Regions from separate parts of the Homo sapiens genome. Here regions 1 and 3 are each linked to region 2. Evidence: fine-mapped expression QTL. A gene starts in region 2. Each other region holds a variant in brackets. All regions are shown on one strand. Distances are from middle to middle.

What was found.
Region 1: its variant is fine-mapped to the expression of CRYL1 in whole blood (TOPMed, PIP 0.96).
Region 3: its variant is fine-mapped to the expression of CRYL1 in whole blood (TOPMed, PIP above 0.99).

The regions. Positions count from the first base shown.
Region 1 is chr13:20,653,786-20,665,289 of GRCh38, forward strand. It overlaps IFT88 (intraflagellar transport 88), which reads left to right. Exons shown (of 26, transcript NM_006531.5): 21 at 91-143; 22 at 2,580-2,645; 23 at 9,713-9,819. Among named protein-coding and RNA genes, the nearest start is that of IL17D, 44 kb to the right of the region's middle. The variant T/C (reference allele first, on the strand shown) is at 5,614.
Region 2 is chr13:20,519,622-20,528,162 of GRCh38, forward strand. CRYL1 (crystallin lambda 1) reads right to left here and starts at 6,236. Exons shown (of 8, transcript NM_015974.3): 1 at 6,133-6,236. The coding sequence starts at 6,173. RefSeq lists a silencer at 5,912-6,461 and an enhancer at 6,642-6,751.
Region 3 is chr13:20,477,181-20,487,535 of GRCh38, forward strand. All of the region lies in intron 3 of CRYL1 (crystallin lambda 1), which reads right to left. Among named protein-coding and RNA genes, the nearest start is that of CRYL1, 43 kb to the right of the region's middle. The variant G/A (reference allele first, on the strand shown) is at 2,982.

The sequences.
Region 1 (11,504 bases), 140 kb after region 2:
TAATTGTAAAATAGTAGATACATAGCTTTATAAAACTGAGCATCACAGATTTTTTTATCTCTAATTTCATCTCATTTATTTATTTTATAGGCCTACACAAGTGAAATGGCAGCTGATGGTAGCTAGTTGTTTCAGAAGAAGTGGTAAATGCTTTAGTTTTATTCATTTTATAGATATTTTGCTTCTTTCCTTTTAGGTAATTATGCATATAAATGTGATCCAGTTGCATATCTGTTTATTAAAATACTAACTTTTTATAACTGTACATAATTCAAAGCATTGTATGAAAAACACAATAATTACTACATACAAAAAAGTTATGCTTACAAAATGGGTATTAATCATGTATTCCAATACTTGTCTTAAAAACAGATTTGTTATTTCTCAAAGTTAACATGTAATCATTTTCACAAGTTAGCCACAGAAAAAAATAGGCATACTGTATACATTATATTTCCATTTTCTACTCAGTTAATTCTAAATGTCCTGTGTGCTCGGCCAAATTTATGACACTTGAGAAGCCTGAGAAAAGCTCACACTGAGACAAGTGTGACTATATGTTTTTTATACCAAAGATCACTGGCTATCTTGGTTTGTGTTTTTGTTACTGCTTTTATTAAATTCTTGCTGATGACACATATCCTGAAGGATAGAGATGCTATTAGTTTTAGGCTAACTGTGAAGTGAATAATATGCATAAAATATCAAAGATCAAGCTGGGAGAGAAATGTGAACAAATTTATAATCCCTCTTGTAGAGCATAAAAATGACCCAGGAAAAGAAAGTATTCAATCTAAGGGAAGAGGGAAGCACAAGTTTTGAAAGTGTTGGCAGTTTGTTCTCACCCAGTTTCGGGGGAGGTTTCCTTCTTTATCTCTGTGAGCACCTTCAGAATGGCATCAGAAATGTTTTAATACATAACTCAGTGTATTCCTCAAATCATTTTAGGGGGGATCTGTAATTCCTATTGAATGTACAACATGACTATACTATATACATTCAATTTATATCAACATGAGTTCTCAATTGCCTATGTTCATTTCAACGTCAGTCATATAGAAAGTATATATATACATATGAACTATTCTAAATGATTTAAAGACATAGCCTGCTTCAGTTATGGAAGTACAGGATAGAAGCAGCAGCTAGCATTGAGAACTGGCTTTGGGTCAGATGCTTCCTGTCTCTATTTCATCCCTCTTGTAGAGAGAGGCCCAGAGAGATTTATAACTCATTTGCTAAGATTTTAGGAAAGATCTTTGACCCAAATTCGTTTTTCCTATTTTGGCTGCTACATGAAGCTAAATTATTTTGTTATAAAATAAATTGCTTTCTATAAACTTTCTAATGTTTAAAAAACTGTAAAGGCCGGACACAGTGGCTCACGCCTGTAATTCCAGCACTTTGGGAGGCTGAGGCTGGCAGATCACGAGGTCAAGAGATCGAGACCATCCTGGCCAACATGGTGAAACCCCATCTCTACTAATAATACAAAAATTAGCTGGGCTTGGTGGTGCACGCCTGTAGTCCCATCTACTCGGGAGGCTGAGGCAGGAGAATCACTTGAAGCCAGGAGGCGAAGGTTGGAGGTTGCAGTGAGCCGAGATTGCGCCACTGCACTCACTCCAGCCTGGTGACAGAACAAGACTCCATCTCAAAAAAAAAAAAACAAAAAAAACCACACATTTATTTATTTATTTATCCATTCATTCATTCATTCATTTTGAGACAGAGTTTTACTCTGTCACCCAGGCTGGCCTGCAGTGGCACTAATCACAGCTCACTGCAACTTCCACCTCCTGGGTTCAAGCGATTCTCCTGTATCAGCCTCCCCAGTAGCTGGGTTTATAGGTGTGTGCCACCATGGCCAGTTAATTTTTGTATTTTTAGTAGAGAAGGGGTTTCACCATGTTGCCCAGGCTGGTCTCAAACTCCTGGCCTCAAGTGGTCCACCCACCTCAGCCTCCCAAAATGCTGGGATTAAAGGAGTGAGCCACCACGCCCAGCCCAAAAAAACTATAAAAACATCTTAAATATTTTCCAACTAAATGAATGACATTGACATTACTGTAAGTATATAACTTAGATTATTTTTAAATTTGTCAGTTCATCTGGAATAATCTTTTTTAGAAAATTGAATGGATCTTAATTTTTGCCACTAAAATATTTAAAGTGAACCAGGCTCAGCAATGTGCGTCTATAGTCCCAGCTACTCTGGAGGCTAAGACACGAGGATTGTTTCAGCTCAGGAGTTTATAGGCTGTAGTACTTAATGGTTGTGCCTGTGAATAGCCACTGTACTCCAGCCTGGGCAACAGAGTGAGACCTCGTCTCTTTAAAAAAAAAAAAAAGGAAGAAGCTAAATTTCAGCTATCACCCATTTACTTCTGCTTTCAGCCTTATTTCAAATTTATTTTATCTATACATTTTCTTCTAAAAGTTATATTAAGTGGTATATAAAACATGAAACCTTTCTATTAAACCATTAAATAGCCAGTATATCAGTTAAAATTAATATTTTTCTGAATCCTGTTAGTTTCTATAATTTGCTAATATATTTTTCTCTTGTTTGTTTATAGGTAACTACCAAAAAGCATTAGATACTTACAAAGATACTCACAGAAAATTTCCAGAAAATGTCGAATGTAAGTGGCATTACATAATGTAACTTTGAAGTGATAAGTTCTCATATTTTATGTTCTAATATATAATTACCTTTGCTACAGTAATTGTATACGTAAATACCAACCTATAATTTGTGATACATATTTTAAATATTTTTATAGCATCAGAAAATTTGACTATGCAAGTACATATTTTTATGTAACTAATTGTTGATGGATTTAAATATACCACAGAATTTTCTTTAATACTAAAAAAATACATATTTCAGAGTTCTATAGAATTTTAAGAAAGCATTTTGGCCTATGGTTGATTTTTCAAAGTTTGTAAACCTGTGGTATTTTATAGGAAAGACATTTTTAACTGTCCATTTTAGTAAACAACTTCTAAAGGTTGAGAAAATAATTTTAGGGTTTATAAAAACTGAACATTAATAATCTTGCTGATACAATAGCAAATAATTTTTTTTTAGACAGAGTCTTGCTCTGTTGCCCAGGCTAGAGTGCAGTGGTGTGATCTCAGCTCACCACAACCTCCACCTCCTGAGTTCAAGTGATTCTCCTGCCTCAGCCTCCCTAGTAGCTGGGACTCTAGGCGCGCACCACCGTGCCTGGCTAATTTTTGTATTTTTAGTAGAGACGGGTTTTACTATGTTGGCCAGGCTGTTCTCAAACTCCTGACGTTGTGATCCGCCTACCTTGGCTTCCCAAAGTGCTGGGATTACAGGCGTGAGCCACTGCTCCTGGCGGCAAATAATTTTTAATGTTACTTCAATTTTAAAACATTATGTTAATATGCTGCGTACTCAGTTGTAAAGTTATCTTTGTAGAAGATATTCATTTATTTACTATCTTGTTGCACAGTGGATTGATGCAACTTACAGTAATAATGTGAAGTATTATGGCAGTAACAACAAAATCAAGAAAAACATAAAGTAAGCACAGTCATATGCCACATGTTCTCACTAAACTATAAATTTGTCCCTGAATAGCCTTGCAGCCAAAGGAAAGAGAAAAGTTACAAGCAGTTGTACAATTTTTACTGTTTTATGTGGAAATATAAAGCAATTTATTGGGAAGAAGAAGTATCTCTTCAACTCTTAATTCACTTCTGTTTAGACATTGAGAGATACAGTAGATAAAATCATTGAAAGACACAGTAGATACTTTCTTAAATAACATCCCTATAGCAAATAAAATAATATGCTGGAAACGACCATGTTAAAATTTGTTCTTCAAGGCTGGGCACAGTGGCTCACGCCTGTAATCCCAGCACTTTGGGAGGCTGAGGTGGGCAGATCACCTGAGGTCAGGAGTTGAAGACCAGCCTGGCCAATAGAGCGAGATTCTGTCTCAAAATAAATAAATAAATAAATAAATAAATAAATAAATTTGTTCTTCAATGACAATGAACACAAAAGAATGCATTACAATTTAGTAAAAACAAATCTTTTCTGAGCCAAGTTTTCTAATGGCCAAGGATTAGATGTACTACGTGTTTCTTCATTAATATATTTCTCCATTTGGCTTTCTAAAAAAGCTCAACAGCAGTTAGCTCAGTTATGGTCTTTGGTAGGAGTGTAGGAGCAGGGTGTTCTCCAATGCTGATTAGAAGTAGACTCATTAACTTAACAGCAGTAGTTTTCACAAATACCAGTCAGGAAATAGGCTACATGGGAATTAATTCTAGAATTTTTTTTTTTTTTTGAGATGGAGTTTTCTTCTTGTCTCCTAGGCTGGAGTGCGGTGGCGCCATCTTGGCTCACTGCAACCTCTGCCTCCTGGGTTGAAGAGATTCTCCTGCTTCAGTGTCCCTAGTAGTTGGGATTACAGGCACACGCCACCATGCCCAACTAATTTTTGTTTTTAGTAGAGACGGGGGCTCTACTAAAAACAAAATCACTCTTCAAGCGATTCTCTTGCTTCAGCCTCCCAAATTGCTAGGATTGCAGGTGTGAGCCACCATGCCCGGCCTAGAACTTTTTTAAAGTACAAATTTCTAGCCCTACCTAGAAAGATTTTCATTTAGATTTACAGTGGATGCAGGCGTCTGTTTTTTCCTATTTCTGTTTAAAGAACTTTCTATGTGATTCTTAATCTCAGTCACATTAGAGAACTAGTGCTTTAGAGATTAAATGAGAGATAGCAGTAATAACTTTTCTTGAAAGTGGAACAACCCAAAAGTCTGCTAGGCAAGAGTTTCTCGGCCTTGGCACCTTTGACATTTGGGATTGTGCAATTCCACATTGTGGGAGGCCATCCAGGGGATTATGGAATGTTTGGTAAAATCCCTGGCCTCTGTCCAATAGATTAGCTAGTAGCTCTCTCACCCCTAGATATGAAAACCAGAAATGTCTCTAGACATTGCCAGTGTCCCTTGGGGGTGCAAAATTGATGCCAGTTGAGAACTCTTGAAGTAACCATAGCACCTCTGCACCGGACCGGAAAAGCGAATGTCTTCAAGGAAGGCCAGGTTTTTTTCTTTAGAGTATGAGTCACTCTAAGAATCAAATGAATGATTGTCTATGCCATAGAGGGTGTCTAAGATAACTTTGGCCTATTTAATTTTCAAAACAAATGTAATCAATAGTCTACCTTAACTGTAGTTGTAGAAAAAACATTTACACCCATGGAATGTGCTGTTTTAAGAAGACTAGTTTTCTGGATAAAACTAGCAGGATAATTTAGTTTTAAAACATATTCTTCACCAAAAATTGACCTGCTTTACAGAGTTACAGATGATGTACTAAATTTCAGAGAACATCCACCAAAAATAATGATTTTTACTTTACATTAAGTGTTTCTGGCTGTGCGTGATGGCTCATGTCTGTAATCTCCACACTTTGGGACACCAAGGCCGGAGGATTGCTTGAGCCCAGGAATTCAAGAACAGCCTGGGAAACATGGCAAGACCTCAACTCTTCTAAATATGAAAAAAATATCAGGGCATGGTGGTGTGCATCTATAGTTCCACCTGCTCGGGAGGCTGAGA[T/C]GGAAGGATCGCTTGAACCCAGGAGTTCCAAACTGCAGTGAGCTGTGATTGTGCCAGTGCACTCCAGCCTGGGCATCTCTAAATCTCTTAAAAAAAAAAAATTCCTAAGCCAATCTTTATTTGCAGAAAGTACAAATTACCTTCTTATTCTGAATTATTAATATAAATGTATATGCAAATGCAATTTTTATAGTAATGTGTGACATTTTAAGTTACTTTATACTATTAACTTTTACAATACTTTATGGTCTTTTTTTTTTTTTGAGACACAGTCTCACTCTGTCACCCAGGCTAGAGTGCAGTGGTGCGATCTCGGCTCACTGCAACCTCTGCTGTCCAGGTTCAAGTGATTCTCCTGCCTCAGCCTCCCAAGTAGCTGGGATTACAGGTGCCTGCCACCATGCCCAGCTAATTTTTGTAGTTTTAGTAGGGATGGGGTTTCACCATCTTGGCCAGGCTGGTCTTGAACTCCTGACCTCATGATCTGCCCGCCTCAGCCTCCCAAAGTGCTGGGATTACAGGCGTGAGCCACCGCGCCTGGTCTACTTTAATGGTCTTAAATTGCTGGTATATTTACAAATTATTGTGGAGTGGAGTGACTATTCTGTTCCAGACGTTGTTCTAGCACTGTGGATGTAGCAGAAAACAAAAGAGACCAAAATCCTTGATGTCGTGGAACTTGTTTCTAGTGGGAAAAGACAATAAACAAATAATGTCAGTAGTTATAAGTGCTATGAAGGCAAAACAGGTAAGGAGCTAGAGAATGTGGGAGGGGCTGGTATTTGAGACAGGGTTGTCATGGAACGGCTTTCTGTTAAATTAGCATTTGAGCAGAGACCTGAAAGAATAGACAGAAGCAAGCCATGACGATATGGAGGTCAATGTGGTTGAAGCACAGTGGACGATGTGATGGGGAGAGAGAGGCAGAGTGGGTGGGCCAGGACCTGTGGATCCTCACAGGCCTTAGGTCAGGGCTTCAAATTATATTTCTGGGGAGATGATGAGCCATTGGAGGATTTTGTGTGGAAGAATAATACAATTTGACATATGTTTTCAAAAGGTTCTAAAGTGTGATTAACTCAAGCTTCTGTACCTGAGGTCCAAATCAAAAGATTGTTTTGGCTGCTGTATGGAGAATAAGCTGGAGTGGGCAGTACCGAAATGCAAAATCACAGTATTCACTTGGACTAATGATTTAGCAGTGGAGGTGGGCAGGATGGATTCTGAATATGTATCAAAGGTATCAGTGCCAGCACTTGCTGGCCATTTAGATGTGAGACTTGAGGGAGAGAGTGTCAAGGGTAATTGCACAAATATAGCTCTGGGAGCTGGAAGGATGCCATCCACTGAGATGTAGGAAACTGGGGAAGAAGCAGCTTTTGGAGGGAAAAATCAAAACCTTTTTTTAGATATGTTGTGTTTGAGCTACCTTTTCGATGTCCAAGAGGATGTATTAAATAGGCACTTAGGGAGAAGTTGGGGGCCATCTTCATATAAATTTATTTCAGTATATTTAGCACATATTTTTGTGCTCTGTTATTATATATATTATCAGTAATACTTTTGAAAAAATGGAGTGTTCACTAGCTTTAAGACTTTCCTGTTTCTTTATCCATTCATTTGTTCCCCAGAACTTTTACCAACTATTTTTTATGTGCTGGGGATACAACAGATATATCAACTTGATTTCTGCCTCCTAGGACTCACAAATAGTTAACTGATATAGGTTAATAAATGAGATAACTGAAAAATGTGCAAAGTGCTGTCAAAATACAGAGGATCTCTTAACTCTGCCCAAACTAGGGGACGATTGACATAATTAGGTTTTACAGAGGAAGTAACATTTGAAGTGGCCTTGAAGGGTACGGAGGGTTTTACCAGGAAGGAAAGGCAGGAACAGGCACTGCAGGTAGACAGTAGCATTAGTAAGGGCAGAGTTAGAGGGATGCAGAGTCTATTTCAAAAGGTAGTCTATTGTGGAAAATGTAGCAGATTGAAGATGTGTTTTCTTATACTACAAACCAAAAAAAGACAGTTTATAAAAACTATAAATGCGGCTGGGTGCGGTGGCACACGCCTGTAATCCCAGCACTTTGGGAGGCCAAGACGGGCGAATCACGAGCCAGGAGTTCAAGACCAGCCTGACCAACATGAGGAAACCCTTGTCTCTACTAAAAATACAAAAAATTAGCTGGGCATAGTGGTGGGCACCTGTGATCCCAGCTACTCAGGAGGCTGAGGCAGGAGAATTGCTTGAACCCAGGAGGCAGAGGTTGCAGTGAGCTGATATTGCGCCAGTGCACTCCAGCCCAGGTGACAGAGCAAGACTCCATCTTAAAAAAAAAAAAAAATTATAAATGTACAAGAACAAAGAGATAATTAAATTTTAGGAATGTTTTCTGCTTAGCAGATTAGAAGAACTGCAGAGGTATGTAGGTAGTGGAGACGTCAGCAGAAGCAAAACAATTCTTGACATAGAACCCCAGGAAATCCCGGGAATTGGAGGCATCAGAAAATGGGAGGGGTGCTGGCTGCTTCTGAAAACAGGAGGGTTGGCTGCAAGTCTGGATGTGATACAGCTAGATTTTCAAATGCCCTACCTAAATCGTACAGCAGGAATTTAGGCAGAATGCAATGATGTTGTTGGTGGATGATGTCGGGAGATGTATTTGAAAGATATTTAATAGAGCCAAAATGATTAATTCTGGGACGAAGCTTCCAGAAGAAGGATCAGGCAGCAATATTTGCTGTTCTGCAGCCTCTGCTGGTGATACCCAGGCAAACAGGTTCTGGAGTAGACCTCCAGCAAACTCTAACAGACCTGCAGCTGAGGGGCTTGTCTGTTAGAAGGAAGACTAAAAAACAGAAAGGAATAGCATCAACATCAACAAAAAGGATACCCACAAAAAAAAAAGGCCTACCGACCAAAAAAAGTCCAGGACCAGACAGATTCACAGCCAAATTCTACCAGAGGTGCAAAGAGGAGCTGGTACCATTCCTTCTGAAACTATTCCAGTCAATAGAAAAAGAGGGAATACTCCCTAACTCATTTTATGAGGCCAGCATCATCCTGATACCAAAGCCACACAGAGACACAACAAAAAAAGAGAATTTTAGACCAATATCCCTGATGAACATCTATGTCTCTGGAAGGATGAGTAATGAGTAACTTTTATTTTTTGTTTTTTACCTTTGTATGTTTTACAAATTCTCTATAATGACCTGCATTGCAGTTGTATTGAAGGAAAATATTATTTTTAAATGAGATAATAAAAATATTTTAAAGTAATTTAGACCACAAATGGCAAAGGCCATTCTTACAAATGTAAAGACAAAATTATTGTGTTTTTTAGCATCTATTGCATGTTTTTAAAATGTTGCTAATTTTAGAAACACAAGCTTGAATGAAAAAGCAAATTCCAGGAGACTGTATACAGAACAATACCATTTTTATAAGACCCAATAGCAAGCAGAACTAAACAATATGTCATCTGGTGATATGTATAAAGTGATCGAAGATTTTGTTGTTGTTATTGTATACAAGACATGATTAACACAAAACTTTTTATTGTGATTATTTTGTATATATTTGATGTCAACTGTAAGACCAGCCACTGTAAAATACATCTTTTTTATCTTCCTAGTGCTTTGCACAGTGTGAATAATACTTAATTTAAAAATGAATTTACTGACAGTAATAACATTAGTAATGATTATTATATGTATAAACTGTCTACACTTTTTAGCCTAGTCTCTCTTATAGCTCTTTATATGTATTTATGAAACTGCTATAGAACATTAACAAATGTTACATTTGCCTTCTAAGTTCTCTGCCAGCAGTGTCCTGTGCCATGTTCCTTCTAGGTTCTGGCAGCGTGAGGACAGGACACATGGAGAGAGACCCTTTAAACCTCCTTCCAAGGAAGTCAGTTCTCCCTGGTCCAGAGATTGCAAAGTGTAATTATTTTTCAGGAGAAAAATACTATTTGTAAGCATCATTCCTACCTGTATCCCAAAAGACTGAGTTCACTGATTTATTGAGCTTTTAACAAATATACTGTGCCTATATTCTTTCCTAAATGTATATTTTACAATTTAGGTCTGCGTTTCTTAGTTCGTCTCTGCACAGATCTTGGATTAAAAGATGCTCAAGAATATGCCAGAAAACTGAAGAGGTTGGAAAAAATGAAAGAAATAAGGGAACAGGTATCTCATATGGGCCCCAAACTGCAGTCTGTTAATTTTTAGAATGTCAGCCTTCTATAGCTCAAATGTGTGATGTTAGGAGCTTCTATAAGAAAACAGAGTTGAAATTTTTTTCTGCTCTGACATAATAGGAGGAATAACTAAAACTCTAGTTTGAGGATAAAATTCTGGCAAAAGTGGATTCCCAGGGAGAGGAAGTGCAATAGATTTCATATTATCTTAGTGGATAGCTACTAACAGACAAATAATTATAATTTTCCACAACATGAAATAGCTTACAGGTTAATTTGAAGACATAATTTTAATTGGAAAGTCCTGTGGACCATGAGAGACAGTTACTTCTCTGCAACAATGGAATCTGTGAGTGTGTGCTTTAACAAGTTTTCTAGGTGATTTTTATTGTCGCCAAAGTTTGAGAAGCACTCAGGCTTTATGCTCCTTGAAGGGTTACCTTGATCAAATACCAACTCAGGATATAGAAGCTAATTTAAGAGGTGAAAAAGTAGACATAAAATATATCAGGCAGTGGATTTTCTTAAATTGTTTTAAAATGGAAAAAGATTTGTATAAACTTAAGAGAGGAACATAAACCAATTCAGGTTTATGTGGGTCAGGGTAATTTCTCTTGCTGATTCCCTAACTCCTGTTTTAAAATGTTAAAACTAGAAGTTTTATCTAAAATGATTTTTCAGAGAAACTAGTCCTCTTTCTGGAACTATTATGGAAAGGAAGACTGTTCTCTTTTTTGTGCTTGGGGGAATCCACATTTTTGGGTAAGAAGAAAACATTGTACATTGTACATTGTACATTCATTAGTGCCAGCAAGAAGCAATTGTGGCACTGGGTTGTTGGCCAGGCAAGACAGACTCACTCTCAGCCCTCCATTCCTGAACACTGTGAGCCCCATAATGGTGTGGACCAGCCCCTGGAAACTGTAAGCCATGTAGCAGTGCTGTTTTTTAAAAGATGTTTTGCTTTTCTGCTTCACTGAACATGAAAAACATTAGCAGACAAACAAAGAGGTCTGTCAAAGCAAGAGTGTATGTTTGGAATAGAGCAAAATGGGAAGAGCAGGGCTTGAGGAATGAATATTTTAAATATGAAAAAGGAAGAGAAAAACAGCCAAAACACCAAAAAGGTTGGAGAATAAAGGTAAACTATTAAGAAGAAAAAGAAAATAAAGAAATAATAGAGACTGGGCACGGTGGCTCACGCCTATAATCCCAGCACTTTGGGAGGCCAAGGTGGGCAGATCACGAGGTCAGGAGATCGAGACCATCCTGGCTAACACACTGAAACTCTGTCTCTACTAAAAATACAAAAAATTAGCCAGGCGTGGTGGAGGGCACCTGTAGTCCCAGCTACTTGGGAGGCTGAGGCAGGAGAATGGCATGAACCTGGGAGGCGGAGCTTGCAGTGAGCTGAGATCCTGCCACTGCACTCCAGCCTGGGCAACAGAGCGACACTCCGTCTCAAAAAAAAAAAAAGACAAAAATGCAGAATATTTTCATTGCTAGTCTAAAGATAAAAATATATTCAATTTTTAAATCAAATTTCTAAATTTTCAGACTATTCAAATACAGAAATGCTGTTTCAATATTTGCCAGTTTTCCCCCAAAGTAATCAGGAAACAATGCCAAGAAATGCTTTCTTTTGGCCAGATTGACAAAATAGCATGTGACATT
Region 2 (8,541 bases):
GGGAAGGGATACATTCAGCAAAACCTAGAATATGGGAAATTTTACAGGGCAAATGACTCAAATTCTTCAGTAGATAAACGGCAAGAAAAATTTTACAAAACCAGAGAGGGATGAACAATCTATAGATTGAAAGAGCTAAGAATCTTATTGACTAAATATAACATGTGGGCCTTATTTAGACCCTAAATCAATCAAGCCAAGTATTTAAAAAATTAATCAGGGAACTCTTGAATATGGAAGAGATATTTAAAGATATTACATGAAGATATTAAGGAATTGTGTTAATGTTTTACACATGATGATGCTATTGTGGTTATATAGTTTTAAAACAGTCCATATCTTTTAGATACTATACATGCTGACATATTTACAGACGAAATGATTCAATGCCTGGCATTTGTTTCAGAACAATCCAGAGAAGGGAGAATAACTGAAACCATATTAGCCATGTGTTAATAATTGTTGAAGTTGAGGGGGTGGGGGAAGGTACTTTAAGGTTCATTGCACTGTTCTCTCAACTTTAACACAGTTTGAAATGTTTCCCTAACACAAAGTTAAGAGAGAGAATATGGATAGGAAGAAAGAAACTGGAGACAATATGGATAAGTTTATTAAGTTTTGAGGAGCAATGTGGCAATTACCAGAGGGAAAAATGGGGTCAAGAGAGGGTGCTTTTCTGTTTTCAGGGAACAACTATATGTTTGCTGGCTGCGGGGTCTGAACCCTGGAGAGGGGAAGCAATCATGAGGGAGGGAGCATGGTGCTTTGGTCTGGGGCTAATGCACCTGCCTCCATGGCTTGGGTCTTACCCCGCTGCTGTTGCTCAGGGAAAGGCAGCCCCCTAATCAAACAGGCAGCAAATCCTTGGAATCGCAATTATCTGACCTGAGGGAGGGTAACCATCGGCCAGGATTCTGGCATCAAATATCAGGTGATTGGACTGGGCCCCACTTCCCTTTCAGTCTTGAGATTGGCCCCTTCATTGCAGAGGACCAACAGCAGACCGCTGACCCCTGGGGACCAGCTGGTGTCTTTTCCCCCACCCCTTCACGCCCACACACTCAGTCATTGCTGATTGGACATGGATTGGACACCTGACCCAAAGCAGCCAATCAACTGGCTTAGGAGCACCCTATAACATCTGCAGCCTGGGATGCACAGAGGTGAAACCACTGGGTTTCCTCTCTTGAAAATTGGACCCGGGCCGGGCACGGTGGCTCACGCCTGTAATCCCAGCACTTTGGGAGGCCGAGGTGGGTGGATAACGAGGTCAGGAGATCGAGACCATCCTGTCTAACACGGTGAAACCCCATCTCTACTAAAATATAAATAATTAGCCAGGCGTGGTGGCAGGGGCCTGTAGTCCCAGCTACTCGGGAGGCTGAGGCAGGAGAATCCCGTGAACCCGGAGGCGGAGGTTGCAGTGAGCGGAGATCACGCCACTGCACTCCAGCCTGGGTGAAAGAGCGAGACTCCGTCTCAAAAAAAAAAAAAAAAAAAAAAGGAAAGAAAGAAAGAAGGAAGAAAGGAAGGAAGGAACGAACGAACGAAAAAAAGAAAGAAAGAAAGGAAATAAATTGGACCCAAAATACAGAAAAAAAATCAGTAAGAGGCACTATACTTGAAAGAGGATAACCTTAGGGTTGGCAGTGATGTGCAAGATAAAGTCACAGGGAAGGAAAGAAAAGTGAGCAAGTACAAGGAGAGGGAATCTACAGAGCAAAGGAAGCTACAGAGAGGCACAGGGACCAGATTGCACGGCCCCAGAGCTAGAAAGTTCCCTGGCTTGGTTTTCCTCAGGTTTCTGTTTCAGGTTTCCCTCAGTATTGTTCCCCAATACTACCTTACATCAGGCCCAAGAATAATTAACTTCCTGTCCTGAGAGCTTGTGACATCTTATTGGCCTTTTTTCCAACCACTATATGCCTGGGGACCTCAAAATGGGAGCCAGCGATAGAGGTAATTCAATGCCCTTCCCACTGTGACTATTGCGACATGTCTTAAAGCTTCTGAATTCATGAATCTTAATGGGTACTACAAAAGGTGAATGCAGATGAACATTTATTCTGTTACACAGTAGCAAAGCAGCAGGGGAGAAAAGTGATATAATTGCTTCAATTCTATCATTAATGTCACTTAATTTTGAATAAATTCACTTTAGATACATTTGAAAGTATCTTTCCAGCTACAGTTACTTATTTACTGGGTAAAAATTGAAGTAAAACTGTTCCTACACTCATGATCTCAGTCTACTATGGAAATTTTGCCAGAAAGAGCTATTAAGTAACTCCTGCGAAGGGCACATTTAGTGTCTAAGCTGACTCAAAAGGCAAGGAGGGCATCCTAGGGTTTGCTGTGTATGTGTACAAAAATTAGCAGGAAAATACCTAGAATAGCACTTCAAAGAAAATTCATGCCTCAGAAAGTTTCTTATAAAAAATGCACAGGCCAGGTGTAGTGGCTCACGCCTGTAATCTCAGCACTTTGGGAGGCTAGGGTGGGCGGATCAGTTGAGGCCAGGAGTTCGAGACCAGCCTGGGCAACATGGAGAAACCCTGTCTCTACTAAAAATACGAAAATTAGCCAGCAATGGTGGTTCGTGCCTGTAGTCCCAACTACTTGGGAGGCTGAGGCAGGAGAATTGCTTGAATCCAGAAGGCAGAGGTTGCAGTGAGCTGAGATGGTGCCACTGCACTTCAGCCTGAGCCTGACAGAGCAAGAATCCGTCTCAAAAAAAAAAAGTACAATCACCCCAAACAAAATTTTGGAATTAAAAAAAATGAAGGAGACTGTAGTTTATAGGATACCTTTCTTTCTTGCCTTTCTAGTTTATGGGATGTTTTTCTTGATATAAAACAACGTCCTACCAAGCCCTTCATAGGGCACATCAGTTAAAAAATAAGCAGTCTCTGTTACAAACGCTCAACTATCTGTCTATTGGGACCACGCATGGTGGATACAAATGGCAACAATACAGTTTCTATCCTTAGGGGAAAGGCCCAGAAGCAGAACTTTTCCTGGAGGAGACAGTCCCTGAGCTTGATCCTGAAAGAGTGTGCCCCCTAAAAAGCAGGACAGGAGAAAGGGCATGCCCTGCACCAGGAACATTTTGTGTTCCTATTCTAAACAAGCTCAAGGGCTACAAGCTGAATCTTGCAGTGTGTATACAAATACAGAACTCATATTTTAGCGATTTAGAAACACAGTGTTTTATAAAGGTAAGGCTAACAAAATGAAAGCCTTAGAACACTACTCCAATGCAAATTTATCTTCATGATACCCATTTCTACTTTTTTTTTTTTTTTTTTTTTTTTGAGATGGAGTCTCACTCTATCCCCCAGCTGGAGTGCAGTGGTGTGATCTTGGCTCACTGAAACCTCCGCCTCCTGAGTTCAAGCGATTCTCCTGACTCAGCCTCCTGAGTAGCTGGGATTACAGGCATGCACCACCACGCCCGGCTAATTTTTGTATTTTTAGTAGAGACGGGATCTCGCCATGTTGGCCAGACTGGTCTCGAACCCCTGACCTCAGGTGATCTGCCCTCCTAGGCCTCCCAAAGTGCTGAGATTACAGGCATGAGCCACCATGCCTGGACTTCTACTCCCATTTTTAAAAGTTATCACTACCAGATTTTCCTGCAGCCCTAGGCCCAAAAGAGTTTCTCTCATCCTCTTTCAAGCCCTCCCCATTCTGAAGGGACTTGCCCTGGATGTTTATAGGACAGCTAAGTGGCCCTAAGGAAGAGTGAACTTTGGAAAAAGATCAGCGGAAAAGAATTAAGTGGGACTGTATTCCTAGCAGGTACTTTCAAGATGAAATCTATAAACTGATAAGGAAAGCTGAAAACACAATATGCTCCTGAAATTGAAATATGTATATTTTGGTCTGTTGAAACCTAAGAATGAAACTGAACCAGGTTTTGGCAAATTAATTGACATTCCCCAAGCCCTATTTGTTAAGTGGGTGTTCCTTGGAATCACCTGTGGGGCCAGGAAAGAAATAGAGGGACGAGAAAGAAGGGTGGTAAAGAGGAAGGGAAGAAACCAGCACTGTCCCAGAGGCAGAGCTGGGTGTGTGCTGAAGTGCTGAGGGTGGGGGAAAGACAAGATTTTCACACCAGAAAACAAAGAAACAAGCAGAGGCCCCAGAGAATTATGTGGTCCTTAAAGTTTGGAAGCCTTTCTCTAATTCCTTATCAACATCCCTCAAGGAATCAGAAGTAAACTGTTAACTGAAGCTCCTCCTCAGTAGACTGAGCCACCCACAGCCAGATAACTGCACAATCAACTAAAACTTTACTTCACATGTATTAGGTGCATGCATAACACTACTCCAAGGCATGATGGACCTATACAAGGCCAAGCAAGGTGGCTCACAACTGTAACCCCAACACTTTGGGAGGCCAAAGCGCTTGCACCCAGGAGTTCAAGACCAACCAGGGCAAGATGGTGAGACCCCATCTCTACCTAAAAATTTTAAAAATCAGCCGGGTATGGTGACACATGCCTGCTGTGGGAGGATGGCTTGAGCCCGGAAGGTGGAGATCCACCATGATAGTGCCACTGCACTCCAGCCTGGGCGACAGAGCGAGACCCTATCCTATTAAAATTGTGTGTGTGTGCGCGTGCGCGCACGCATGCGTGTAAAAACTGTGTGTGTATATATATGTGTGAGTGTATATATATACACACACACATAAACTCTGGTAACTATTAATAAAATGCAAGACAGAGGTAACTACCACCACTGGTACAAAGTGCACTTTTTTTTTTTCAGACGGAGTTTCGCTCTTATTGCCCAGACTGGAGTGCAATGGCACCATCTCGGCTCACCGCAACCTCCGCCTCCCGGGTTCAAAGGATTCTCCTGCCTCAGCCTCCCGAGTAGCTGGGACTACAGGCATGTGCCACTACGCCCGGCTAATTTTGTATTTTTAGTAGAGACGGAGTTTCTCCATATTGGTCAGGCTGGTCTCGAACTCCCGACCTCAGATGATCCGCCTGCCTCGGCCTCCCAACGTGCTGGGATTACAGGGGTGAGCCACCGCGCGCGGCCCAAAGTGCACTTTTTAATATGCCTTCACTATTCAACCACGGGCACTCATGGGCCAGAAAGAACAAAGGCACAGTTAACTCCACTGCTCTGGAGAAAAGAAAGCTGACAACAAGGAATCTGATGCCTTCCTTCAGTGGGAAGGAAACACCCTGACATTGGAAGTGGTCTCCACACCGGGTTGTACACTGATGGGGGGCGGAGTCGGGGGCAGGCCAACACCTCAACAGCAGTCACCAAAAAGGTGCTTTTAACTATCAATAGCAAGTATTAACATGTTTATAGATTGCTGCTAACAGCTGGCCAAAGAAAGGTACATACAAATGCCCCTTTTTAAAAAACAAAAATAGCAAGGATTGTAACCGTAGGGGTGGGGGGCGGGGTGGGGGAAGCACACACTAAAAATCAGTTTGGGCAGAATTTAAGCTGTTAAATGGACACACTTAGCAAACTCTCTGGGCTCCATCGGCCCCCACCTCCCCTCTGGAAACATCGCCTCGCCCAGGAATTAGGACTGCGTGTATGTTCGCCTAACACCTGCTGCGGCCTCCAGCGACATCGTCGCCGACAGGACTGCGCTGGCACCCTCCCTGCTGGGCTAGTCCTGTCTCCGTCACTAAACGCCTGTGACCTTAGGTAAACTGCTTAGTCTCAGTATTCTCATTCGTAAAATGGGGATGAGAACACAGTCGTCGCAGGATCGCAGCCAGAATTCGTTTCATTCAACACGGTGCCTGGCACTTCTATGTGGACCTGCGGGCAGACGCGGCGACATTCAACAGAGTCCAGGAACCGCAGGCCCCGCGGCCTGGGCGGTCAACCTCGGAACCTCCTGCAACGCTGGCTCCCGGGAAGCAGACCCAACTCCGCGGGGCGCCTCCACCTGCCAAGCCCCTCCAGCCGCGCCTCTCCCCGAGCCCGCCAGCGCCGTAGGGGCCGCAGGGCGCAGGGCTTCGGAGGACCGGAGGCCGGGGCGGGGACAGCGACCCGGCGCCCACCCCGAGGGCCCCACGCGAGGGCACCACGTCCCCGGCGTCTCCCCGGGCTCCAGGGGCAGCAGCGCGGCTCGGAGCCCTTTACCTGCCAACGATCACCACGCAGCCGGCCGCGGAGGACGCCATGGTTGGGCCGGGGACGCGGCGCCGCGGGCGCTGGGACCAGGCGCCGGCGGAGCTGCGAGCTCTGGGCTCCGGGGAGGGCGGGTCCCGCGCCCATTGGCTGCGCGCGCGGACCGGGAGGGCGGGGAGGGCCGCTTGGTCCCTGAGTGGGGTGCGCGCCGCGGGCCCGAGACACCGGGAGACACACGGCGCGCCGACCCTCGTGGGCAGGGGCAGGACCAGCGCGGGGGCACGTCGGGGGGTGGAAAGCGGGAAGACCACGCGCTTGTGACTGTCAGCATTCACCGTGAAGTCCGTGTCTATAGGAGGGGACACGGGCAGGCTGGCACGGGCTCTAGCGCTAAAGCACCCTAGAGAAACTGTCAGAGAATGTCCCCTTTGCTAATTCGTCTCTGAAAGACGCCTGCCGCTGCCGCCAACTGCGAACTGGGCGCAGGGACTGCGACAGCAGTGAAAGAGAACACCTGATGCGTTCATCTGCGCTACGGAAGGACACGTCTGAATTCCTCCACGGAGCACACTCTGCACTCGGTTTATGTATCAGAAAAAGGAAATGCCCTCGTGCCCTGACTCCTGGCCTTCTTGGAGCCCGGAACAGACCAAGAGGAAGGGGCATCACACATTGCCTGACAGTGGTGTGCGTCCACACAGCACAAGCTGAACGGGAAATGACACAGTCATTAGACAGAGGAGACAGTACTCAAGCTGGAACCGCAGCCAACACTGAGATGATAAAAGGAAGTCTTCCTTTGTTTCCCCTGAGTCAGGAACGTGGAAAGAGAAATCTCAGGGGAGGGGTTAGGTTTTTTTGTTTTGTTTTGTTTTTTAAAGAACAGTTTCACAAATTATCGATAAATATTTGTAAAGTATTCAACCTCAAGAGAAATGAAAAGTAACACAAGGAAGATAAGTCATCTCTCACTCATCAGATTGGCTAAGTCACATGGATTGATTATATTCCCATATCCGTAATGGAGTGTTTCGGACATGCAACTTACACACAGTAGAAGGCAAGCTTAAATGTTGAGGACTTTTTGGAGGGAATGTTACAGTACATTGTTGAGACAGCCGCTAGCCTGAGCAACCGCGCCTGCTCTGGCTGAGAATACAAGGCTCCAAAGCTTCCATCTTCTGATGGAGCAGTTTCTGTAGTCAGTTACACAGGCAGCCAATATAATAATCAAGGCACCCAGGGAGTGAGCATCCTGTGACTGCTCACTACCGGAGGCTATGGGGGCAGCAGACTGGCTTGTTTGCTGCTCCCTGCAAAGTCATGCCTGAAATCCCAGCGCTTTGGGAAGCTGAGTAGTAAATAATAGCTTGAGGCCAGGAGTTCAAGACCAGCCTGGGCAACAAAGCGAGACCCCTGTCTCTACCAAAAAATTAAAAAACTTATCCAGGCTGGTGCCGCCTGTAGTCTCAGCTACTCAGTAGGCTGAGGCAGGAGGATTGCTTGAAGCCAGGAGTTTGAGACCAGCCTGTGCGAGATAGTGAGAACCCCCCCCCCCGCATCTCTAGTGTGTGTGTATATATATGTGTGTGTGTGTGTGTGTGTGTGTGTGTTTATATATTTATTTATTTATGTGTACATATATTTATAACTTTAATCCTTCTGGTACCAAACAAAAAAAATACAGATTTATTTAAATTAGCCAGGTGTGGTGGTGCATTCCTGTAGTCCCAGCTACTCAGGAGGATCTCTTGAGCCCTGGAGTTCAAGGCTGCAGTGAGCTATGATTTTGCCACTCTACTCCAGCCTGGCTAACAGAACAAGACTTTGTCTCAAAAGAAAGCAAAAGTGGCTGGACGCGGTGGCTCACGCCTGTAATCCCAGCACTTTGGAAGGCCGAGGCGGACGGATCACAAGGTCAGGAGATCGAGACCATCCTGGCTAACACGGTGAAACTCCGTCTCTACTAAAAATTAGCCAGGCGTGGTGGCAGGCGCCTGTAGTCCCAGCTACTCGGGAGGCTGAGGCAGGAGAATGGTGTGAACCCAGGAGGCAGAGCTTGCAGTGAACCAAGATCACGCCACTGCACTCCAGCCTGGGCGACAGAGCGAGACATCATCTCAAAAAAAAAAAGAAAGCAAAAAGTGCTGGGCCCTTGCTCGTTGCAAACACAGGAGTCATCTGGCCCTCTATGTAACCCTGTGGGAATTAAGGATCCAAGAACCCATATAAATATGGTGTCACTCTGGCTATTGCTTTTACTGTAATAAGATAATTTATTTTTAATCCAGGAGTCTCGTGACTTCTGTCAGCATCCAAGTGCAGAACCTCTGTTGCAATTTAGTGAAAATCTCAGACCCTTGCAGTTTCTGACATACACAAAATTTAGAATGTATGTACCCTTTGGCTTAGCAGTTCCAA
Region 3 (10,355 bases), 42 kb before region 2:
ACCTGGGTGTGGTGACACATGCCTGTAGTCCTAGCTACTCGGGAGACTGAGGTGGGAGGATCGCTTGAGCCCAGGAGTTCAAGACGTCAGTGAGCTATGATCACACAGCTACATTCCAACCTGGGCAGCAGAGCAAGACCTTGACTCTAAAAATCTTAAGTAATTAATTTATATATATATATAATATTTGTATAAACTAGGCACTGTTTTAGGTGTTGGAGAAATAGCAGTAGGTAAAACAATCAAAAATATTCCTGAGGTGTGCAGGCAACAATGATTGGGGTTGGAGAGCGGGCATGGCATGGAATAAATACTAGCACCCACTTTACATGGGCGTCCTGAGGACTGAAGTGGGTCATTTTGCATAAAATGGGCGGCACAGGACCTGGCCCATAGTAAGAGATTGACACACAGTAGGTATATATACAGGCAGGCTCCATGGTGTATTTAATATTACATATTATCATTTAATAATGTTTAAAATTAAATATATAAAAATATTTTTAAAAATATATTAAAAATATATATAATAAATTTTAAAAAATTATTTTTATATTATATATTATTTTGTATACTAGATAATATATAATTGTATAATAGATAATATATAATATTCCATTATGTATTCTATTATATATTATACTAAAATATAATATACTATAGTATATAGATAGTATAATATATATTATATGATAATATATAATACTATACTATAAATACTACCATATGTATTATAGTATATATTACAGTATATTATATATTATCATTTTATAATATATATATTACGTAGTTATATATATATATATGTATATAAAAATATATATGGGCAGGCTCCATGGTGTATTCTGTGTAGCACACAGTATCCAACAGTCTTCATAAATAACCATCTCCCATTGCTAACAGCAGAAAGTAAAATACTCTAGAAAAAATGACTAGAAGCAAATATTATAGTTGCTAAAGTGTTTACTAGTTTCCAAGCATTAAATATGTATGCCATGACCACTTTTGAATGGGCTTATCATGTTTTTAACCTAGTGATAAGATCAAAAAGTATTTTCTTAGCTTATATTTATATTTTCTACTTAACAGACTTTATAAAATTGTTTCTATTAGATATGTGCTTATTTTGACTTTGGGCATTAATTTAACAACCTACAACTTTTAAAGCAGAAGGGACAATTTGGTTTCCATCTAGACTGACTATATCATCAACATGAAGTCAACTTTCTCACTTGCACTATAATATACCACATCATCCTTCCAAAAGAGCTCTGTACAGTCTTTCTTTTATTTGGGTTTGTTTGTTTGTTTTTGAAACAGGGTCTTACTCTATCACCCAGGCTGGAGTACAGTGGCAGAATCTCAGCTTACTGCAACCTCCACCTCCTGGGCTCAAGTGATCCTCCCACCTCAGCCTCCCAAGCAGCTGGGATCACAGGCATGCACCACCATGCCATACTAATTTTTTGTATTTTTGGTAGAGACGGTGTTTCACCATGTTGCTCAGGCTGGTCTCGAACTCCTGAGCTCAAGCAATCTACCCGCTGTGGCCTCCCCATGTTCTGGGATCACAGGCATGAGCCACCACATCCAGCCCTCTTCTCGCTCTGTTGCCAGGCTGGAGTGCAGTGGCGCGATCTTGGCTTGCTGCAACCTCCGCCTCCCAGGTTCAAGTGATTCCCCTGCCTCAGCCTCCCAGGTAGCTGGGACTACAGGCATGCGCCACACCAAGCCCAGCTAATTTTTTTTTTTTTTTGTATTTTAGTAGAGACGGGGTTTCACCATGTTGGCCAGGATGGTCTCAATCTCCTGACCTGATGATCCCCCGACCTCGGCCTCCCCAAGTCTGTAAGGCCTCCCTTTACACCTGTAAAGGATTACAGGTGTGAGCCACCGCGCCTGGCCATCTTTCTTTTAAATAGGGATTTGAGATTCCGTTTAAGTTTAGAGGAAATTTAGGGTTAAAACTATTTTAGGAACCAAATTAAGAATGTGGATGTTGGGATGATGCCACATTGGTTGTTGCAAACTGGGACAATGTTTTCAAGTAACACTTTAATAATCACTTTAAAGATCAGCAGACCCAACACTGGCAAGCTTGAAATCCAACTGTGCTAACACATGACTCCTGAAGGTGTACTGGCAATTTTTACAATGCCACTCAGCAAAATGTTATCAAGAGCTGGAAAGGGGCTTACATCTAGTAATTCCCTATGAATGAACTTGCCCTGAAGAAAGTCACAAAAAGCATGGAAGAATGAGATAGAGGGATGATCAACCAAGTTTAACTTACAATCGCACAGTACTGGAAGTAGCCATAAGATCATTATTTTCTAGGTGATATTTGACTTAGTTGATACATCCACTTGACAGACTCTTACACAGCCACTAGAAAGTGTTAAATGTTGATTAATATAAGTAGAATATGACACTGTATCTATAAAGACACACTATCATTACAATTATAAATATTATATGTGGAAAAAAGGCTGGAGGTAAATATATTAAAATGTCACAAATGGGTATTAGAGGAATTGAATTAGGCATGTCTTCCTCTTTGTAGCATGCAAACTTTGTTAATATTTATAGATAATATTTTTTAAAGGGAGGGTTTCTGTCCTAAAGAACCCTGGAAGGAAAACTGGCTGGCCCAGCCCTGGGGACAGAGCATTGAGTATGTCAGTGTTGAGACAGGGATGCTGGGGCTGCCCCTGCGCTCTCCCACGGCACACAGTTCATCAAGAAGTCATGGACCAAGCTGTTACCAAGAACTACATTTTCCTACACTGCTGCAAGAACACACCAGGTGACCTCCCCATCCACTCCCTAACACCTAAGTCAAAATCGCAACACAGCTAGATCCCAGCCTTCCAGACTTAAAGACATTATGAAGAAGAAACATTTACTTCTTTGAAAAAATGCACGGCCAGGCATGGTGGCTCATGTCTATAATCCCAGCACTTTGGGAGGCCAAGGCAGGC[G/A]GACCTGAGGTGAGTTTGAGACCAGCTTGGCCAGCATGGTGAAACCCTGTCTCTACTAAAAATATAAAAATTATCCGGGTGTAGCAGTGGGCACCTGTAATCCTAGCTACTTGGGAGGCTGAGGCAGGAGAATCACTTGAACCCAGGAGGCAGAGGTTGCAGTAAGCCAAGATCAGTGAGCCAACAATCCAGCCTGGGTGACAAGAATGAAACTCTGTCTCAAAAAAAAAAAAATTACCGTCTTCCATTGGCAGGTGGTTGTGAAGGGGGAAAAGCCAAAATGCCCAAACTGAAAGGTAAAGTAGAAATTCAGGCTAACGCTGACCTTGAGCCAGGCTTCCTGGCAAAGATCAAAGCCTGTTGCCTTCTAACATTCTGCTCCAGCACACATAACTTCATACTCCACCCCACAAGGTAGAGGCCAAAGAGAACAAATCATGGTGGAGTACTTTCCTAATGCTCCTGCAGGTCCCACGATGTCTGAGACACAGGCAGGTCACTGCCTCGTCCATCACTGCAGGGCCTGCCAGCGCAAATCATGCCAATAACCTGCCGTTCGTGGATGCTGCGGGGACCCACAATGCTGGCCATGTTTAGTCCTCACCTGCAGGCACACTGAATGCAATGAGGATGCCCTCCTCTTCTAAGACTTTATTTTACTGTCCTTCTTATGTTTTGACTTAGCATTTTTTCAAGTCCTATTTGGTCACAGAAGAAGATAAATACATAATTACAGATTAAGAGAAAAACTTGCCTGTCTCTTGAATGTATAACATTTTTCATTACTTGCTCATATTATATCTTTGAAGCTATACATACTACAAAAAAAAAGCCAAGCAAATAAATAAAAATACAGCTTCACAGAAATAAGACCTCGTGCCCAGTTCTGTAAGCACACTATTTGAATAAAGCAAGAGCAAGCCATCAGAAAAGTAAGGGCTGTGGCAGGAAGCTAGTAGAACATTAGGACAGAATGTTTTCACACTTCGCAAGTGAAAACTGAAGGCTCGTGCTTCCAGATGATCTCGTGAGTGTGTGAGGTGGGCTTGCCCCAGTCCATCCAGAGTCCCACGCACCTTAGTAATGTCATACCACTCAGCAACAAATTACCAATCAACACAACCACACAAGCCACGTCAAATTCATTTTACTCTGTGAAAGAAACCAAACTCAAAAGGCTGCATCATGTATGATTCCATTTTACATAACATTCTGGAGAAGGCAAAACTATAGGGACAAAGAACAGATCAGTGGTGGGCAAGGCCTGGGGAACGGTGGGAGGAAATTAGCTGCAAAGGGAAGGAGAGGCTCTATGCTCTGAACCCCAGCTGTGACGCTGATTTCATACGTGACTGTACGCATCTGTCAGACACATAGCACTGAACCCTGAAACGAGTGAATTTTCTTGTATGGAAATTATATCTTTGTAAACCTGATTTTACAGTTTTTAAAGAAAAAAACACGTATGGCCATGCGTGGTGGCTCACTCCTGTAATTCCAGCACTTTGGGAGGCCGAAGCGGGCAGATCACCTGAGGTCAGGAGTTCAAGACCAGCCTGGCCAACATGATGAAACCCCGTCTCTACTAAAAATACAAAACTTAGCCCGGCATGGTGGTGGGCGCCTATAATCCCAGCTACTTGGGAGGCTGAGGTAGGAGAATTGCTTTAACCCGGGAAGCAGAGGTTGCAGTGAATCAAGATCGCACCACTGCACTCCAGCCTGGGTGACAAAGGTGCGACTCCATCTCGAAAGGAAAAAGAAAAAACACATACAACAGAAAAAGTGTAACTCCAGTTTCCTCGCACATTCCCGAATATTCTCAGGGCTGGCCATCCCATGTGTCCAATGCTGCCTGAACCCCCCACCCCCACACCCATCTCTACCAAAAGAAGAAATATTCTGAGTCTCAGTGAACCAAGACTGAAAGTCCAACAATCCTTTAAGAAAACAAATAAATTTCCAAAAGAACGCTACTTCCTGTAATTACTGACAGTGTCTGAAGGTCCTTTTCAAAATGATTAGCATTCTCTCCATTTTAAAGATATAGTTGAGATGCAAATTCTGATCATCTACATAGACAATATCCATTTAACTTCTCGATTTCAGCTATTGCAGATTGTTCTGACTTTGTGTAAGGAAACCCCATTTAAACTTCGTAACTCTATAAATCATTCCCATGGCTCCCACCAGCTACTGTGATCTCCGGTTTTAAGTTCCAGAGATTAGATAAGGCCTCGACATAGTGGCTAATGAGCTTTAATGTGCTTTAAAAGTCAAGGCTTGAGACCAGCTTTTCAGAGTAAACTTATTTTTCCAGAACAGTAGGTTTTCTTGCCAGGCAAGATTTGATTTCAAAATTGCACTAAGTTCTAGAAATTCAGGTTTCTTTCTTGCGTGCTCCCGGATTTCAGCAGAGTATTAGGAAACGTCCTGACCCAGGCTCCCCGCCCTCTAGGGTTGGGTAGAAAACAATCCACTGGGGAAAACCACACTCCCATTACTGGGCTTCGCCCCCTGGGGCTGGGCAGATCCGACAGTGGGATTATTTTTAGTTGAAGCATTGTGGCAAGCAGTCTGTGTGTGTGTGTGTGTGCGCGCGTGTGTGTGCGCACGCACACACGCGTCTCCTCAAACTCTGCCTCCTGCTTGTGAACAATTCCCTAAATAGTAATAATTTTCTTTTTATAAGAAAACCACAGCAACATATTTTATAAGAAAACTGTAGCAACATAGATGGCATTGGAGATCATTATATTAAGCGAAGTAAGCCAGGCACAGAAAGGCGAAGATCCCATGTTCTCACTCATGTAGGGGAGCTAAAGCAGTGGGTCTCATGGAGGTAGAGAGTAGAATGGTGGACACCCGCAGCCGGCAGTTACCAGGAAGGGGAAGGAGCGATGAAGAGAAGCTGGTTAATGAGTACAAAATACAGTTCGCTAGAAGGAGCAAGGTCTAGCATTCAATAATACAGTAGGGAAATTAGAGTTAATAATGTTATATATTTCAAAATAGAAGATTTATAGTGTTCCCAACACAATAAAAGATAAACGTGTGAGGTTCTGGATATCCTAATACACCGGGATTTTACCATGACACACTGAACACACAAATCAATCACACATGAATCCCAAATATGTACAATTAAGATACAGCAAGTAATTTTTTATTTATTATTATTTTTTTAAGACGGAGTCTCACTCTGTCGCGCAGGCTGGAGGGCAGTGGTGCGATCTCGGCTCACTGCAAGCTCCGCCTCCTGGGTTCACGCCATCTGGACTGACCATATCATCAACATGAAGTCAGCTTTCTCACTTGGACTGTAACGTACCACATCATCATTCTAAAAGAGCTCTGTACAGTCTTTCTTTTATTTTGGTTTGTCTGTTTGTTTTTGAGACAGGGTCTCACTCTATCACCCAGGCTGGAGTACAGTGGCGGGATCTCAGCTTACTGCAACCTCCACCTCCTGGGCTCAAGTGATCCTCCCACCTCAGCCTCCCAAGCAGCTGGGACCACAGGCATGCACCACCATGCCATGCTAATTTTTTGTATTTTTGGTAGAGACGGGGTTTCACCATGTTGCTCAGGTTGGTCTCGAACTCCTGAGCTCAAGTAATCCACCCGCTGTGGCCTCCCCATGTTCTGGGATCGCAGGCATGAGCCACCACATCCAGCCCTCTTCTCGCTCTGTCGCCAGGCTGGAGTGCAGTGGCGCGATCTTGGCTCACTGCAACCTCCACCTCGCAGGTTCAAGTGATTCCCCTGCCTCAGCCTCCCGGGTAGCTGGGACTACAGGTGCCCACCACCACACCTGGCTAATTTTTTGTATTTTTAGTAGAGACAGCATTTCACCGTGTTAGCCAGGATGGTCTCCATCTCCTGACATCGTGATCTGCCCGCCTTGGCCTCCCAAAGTGCTGGGATTACAGGCGTGAGCCACCGCGCCTGGCCAAAATACAGCAATTAATTTTTTTTAAAAAAAGAAAACTGTCTCCAAGTAGCCTAGATTGATTTTTCTACACTGAGAACCTTCCCTTGTATAAATCAGAAAAAGGAGCTGTGAGAGCTGCTAAGAGGGTGCCACTGGCAAAAAGTCTGTGGACCCTGAGATGAGGCAGCACCACAGGGCGGGTGAGTGGTTGCCAGCAGATGAGTGGTTGCAGCCCGGCAGAGGCTGCGGACTTTGGGAACCTCAGCTTTAATGGAATTCTTAGACGGAAGCTTCTTTCAGGTTTGCCATCAAATGGTGACTATCACAATTTTTTAAGTCTAAAAATTATATGTCTCACTTGAGGTCAGGAGTTCGAGACCAGCCTGGCCAACATAGTGAAACCCTGTTTCTACTAAAAATACAAAAATCAGCTGGGTGTAGTGGCAGATGCATGTAATCCCAGCTAATTGGGAGGCTGAGGCACGATAATCGCTTGAACCCAGGAGGCAGAGGTTGCAGTGAGCCAAGATTGTGCCACTTCTCTCTGATACAGCCCCGAGCACATCGTACAGCAGGAAATGTTCTAAGTTTTAAATAAAAACCATGATGCAAAATTCTATTTACAGTATAATCTCAAATGTATTAGAAAGAGAGAAAATAAACAGGAGAAGTGGAAACATATAAATACACAAAAATCTTCAGTATTTTTGGAATAATGAACCTAAACAGGATTGTCCTAAACTTTCTTTACAACACAGAGATGTTTAATTAGGTAAGATACATGTTTAACATTACATTGTGTTAGAAACACTAATGTACTTTAACAAACATGTGGGGCAGCATTAGGTAGGTTTCACTCTGGGGGTTTCATTTACTTGTTTGTTTGGTAAACCTGAGACACTAATATGCACTAGGTTTTGTTGTTGTTGTTGTTGTTGTTGAGACAAGGTCTCACTCTGTCGCCCAGGCTGGAGTGCAGTGGCTCCATCTCGGCTCACTGCAACCTTTACCTCCTGGGTTCAAGTGATTCTCATGCCTCAGCCTCTCAAGTAGCTGGAATTACAGGCATACACCACCACGCCTGGCTAATGTTTTGTATTTTTAGTAGAGATGGGGTTTCACCATGTTGCCCAAGCTGGTCTTGAACTACTGAGCTCAGGCAGTCTGCCCACATTGGCCTCCCAAAGTGCTGGGATTACAGGTGTGGACCACCACGCCCAGCCTATGCACTAGTTTTAAAATTCAGAGGATTAAATTTGCTTTACATCATATAAAGAAATGTGTAGGCTGGGCGCAATGGTTCATGCCTGTAATCCCAGGACTTTGGGAGGTGGAGGCAGGTGGATCACTTGAGGTCAGGAGTTAGAGAGCAGCCGGGCCAACATGGTGAAACCCCATCTCTATTAAAAAATGTACACAAAAAATTAGCCATGTGTGGTGGCACATGCCTGTAATCCCAGCTACTCAGGAGGCTGAGGCATGAGAATCCCTTGAGCCCAGGAGGTGGAGGTTGCAGGGAGCTGAGATCACGCCACTGCACTCCAGCCTGGACAACAGAGCCAGACTCCATCTCAAAGAAAAAAGAAAGATAGAAAAGAAAAGAAAAGAAAAGAAATGTGTAAACATGCCCAAGAAAATCAGTTAACTGGCAAAAATGAACTGCTGATTCTTTTTTCTTACTCATCTTTCCTTCTGATTCATTTCATTCTCCTACTAAATACCTTCCTTGCAGGATTCTAATCAGGACTTAGATTGAAATCCAAACCCTTTAGTTCTTTATTTTTTTTATAATTATTTTTTCTTCAGGTCTCATAATATTTTGTTTGTTTGTTTGTTTTTTGAGATGGAGTCTTACTCCAGTTGCCCAGGCTGGAGTGCAGTGGCCTGATCTCGGCCCACTGCAACCTCCACCTCCCAGACTCAGGAAATCCTCCCACCTCAGCCTCCCAAGTAGTTGGGACCACAGGCACATGCCACCACACCCGGCTAAGTTTTTGTATTTTCAGTAGAGATGAGGTCTCACCATATTGGCCAGGCTGGTCTTGAACTCCTGAGCTCGAGCAATCCGCCACCCTCAGCCTCCCAAGAGTGCTGGGATTACAGGCGTGAGCCACCACACCCAGCCTTCATCTTTATTTCTTTAAAGAAACACATAAATGGTGCTTCTCTTCGTGTACTCCTCTAAGCACTGTGTATTACTCAATTCACCTAAGTAATTCTTCAGGTTGGCATTCGTAGCATGGCGACTTGGTTTCCACCTTGGACCAGCCTTTCCTACCTTTCCAATGGGTCTGTAACGTGGCCTTAGAAACATCCTCAAAGGGACTTCTCATCTCATTCATCTCTTCCTCCCACACAATCCTCCCACCCCCACCCCAAAATCCACTTGTCAAAAGTCAAGACAAGCTCTAATCCTACCTGCATTAAACCTTCCCGAAGCCTCCCGGTCAGAACTATTCCTACCCACTCCTTTCTCTGGTACTGGAGGTACAACAATTTCTGAAGAATATAAACTCTCATAGGAATTAAACCTACTAGTTTACATCATCTTTCTCTAGTTTCCTCTCCTCATCCGGCTTGGCTCTGTGTTCTACATAATAGATATGGCTCAACATGTCATGCCTTGTAAATACACTCATTTAATCTATAAAATAAAGATAGACTGTAGTTAAAGAGCAGTTTTCACTAGTGCCAACCATGTACAGAACGCCATATACTGCCCCATGTCATTCTTTATTACCAAAATTGTTATAAATGGCCACATTATAAAATAATTACCATTTCCTGAGCATTTTCTGTGTGCCAAGTACTATGTAAGTGCTTTACATGCCTTCTAAATTCACATATTCCCCCCAAATTACTCTTTAACAGAAAAACTTGCCTTATTACCCAAGTCTATTATAATGTTCTCATATTATGGAGGGTTCACCACTTTATAAAAAACAATATACTCTTTGAGGGAGACACATTAACCAGAACTAATTCAGTTAGGGTAGTTTTGGATGTTTATAGAAATCATATGATAAACTATCAAAAAAATGGGATGGGGAGACAAAGAAATTTAACATGGATAGATGAATTATTCCTAGGGGATGACTTTACAATTGTTACTGCTAGGAAATTTATAAAGTAGCTATAGAAAGATTCTTTAAAAGAAAAAAAAAAGCACAGCAAGTTGCCATGCTATGGAATCACAAGTGTATTATTACAAAAGGAAAAAACATCTAAATGTTTGAGAATTAGTCTTTGAGGCTGGGGATAAAATTTGCAGTGCCAGCATTGTAGATGGGTTCAAAAAGCTCTGCATAGCAAACATCTCCAAGAGGCAAAGGTAACATGGTCTGGGAACTCTGTTCAGAGAGACTCAAAAAGTGATTGTAATGAAGACAAACATGCTGAAGTTGGAGATATCAGCCCAGAGTTTGAACAAAAGCATTCTG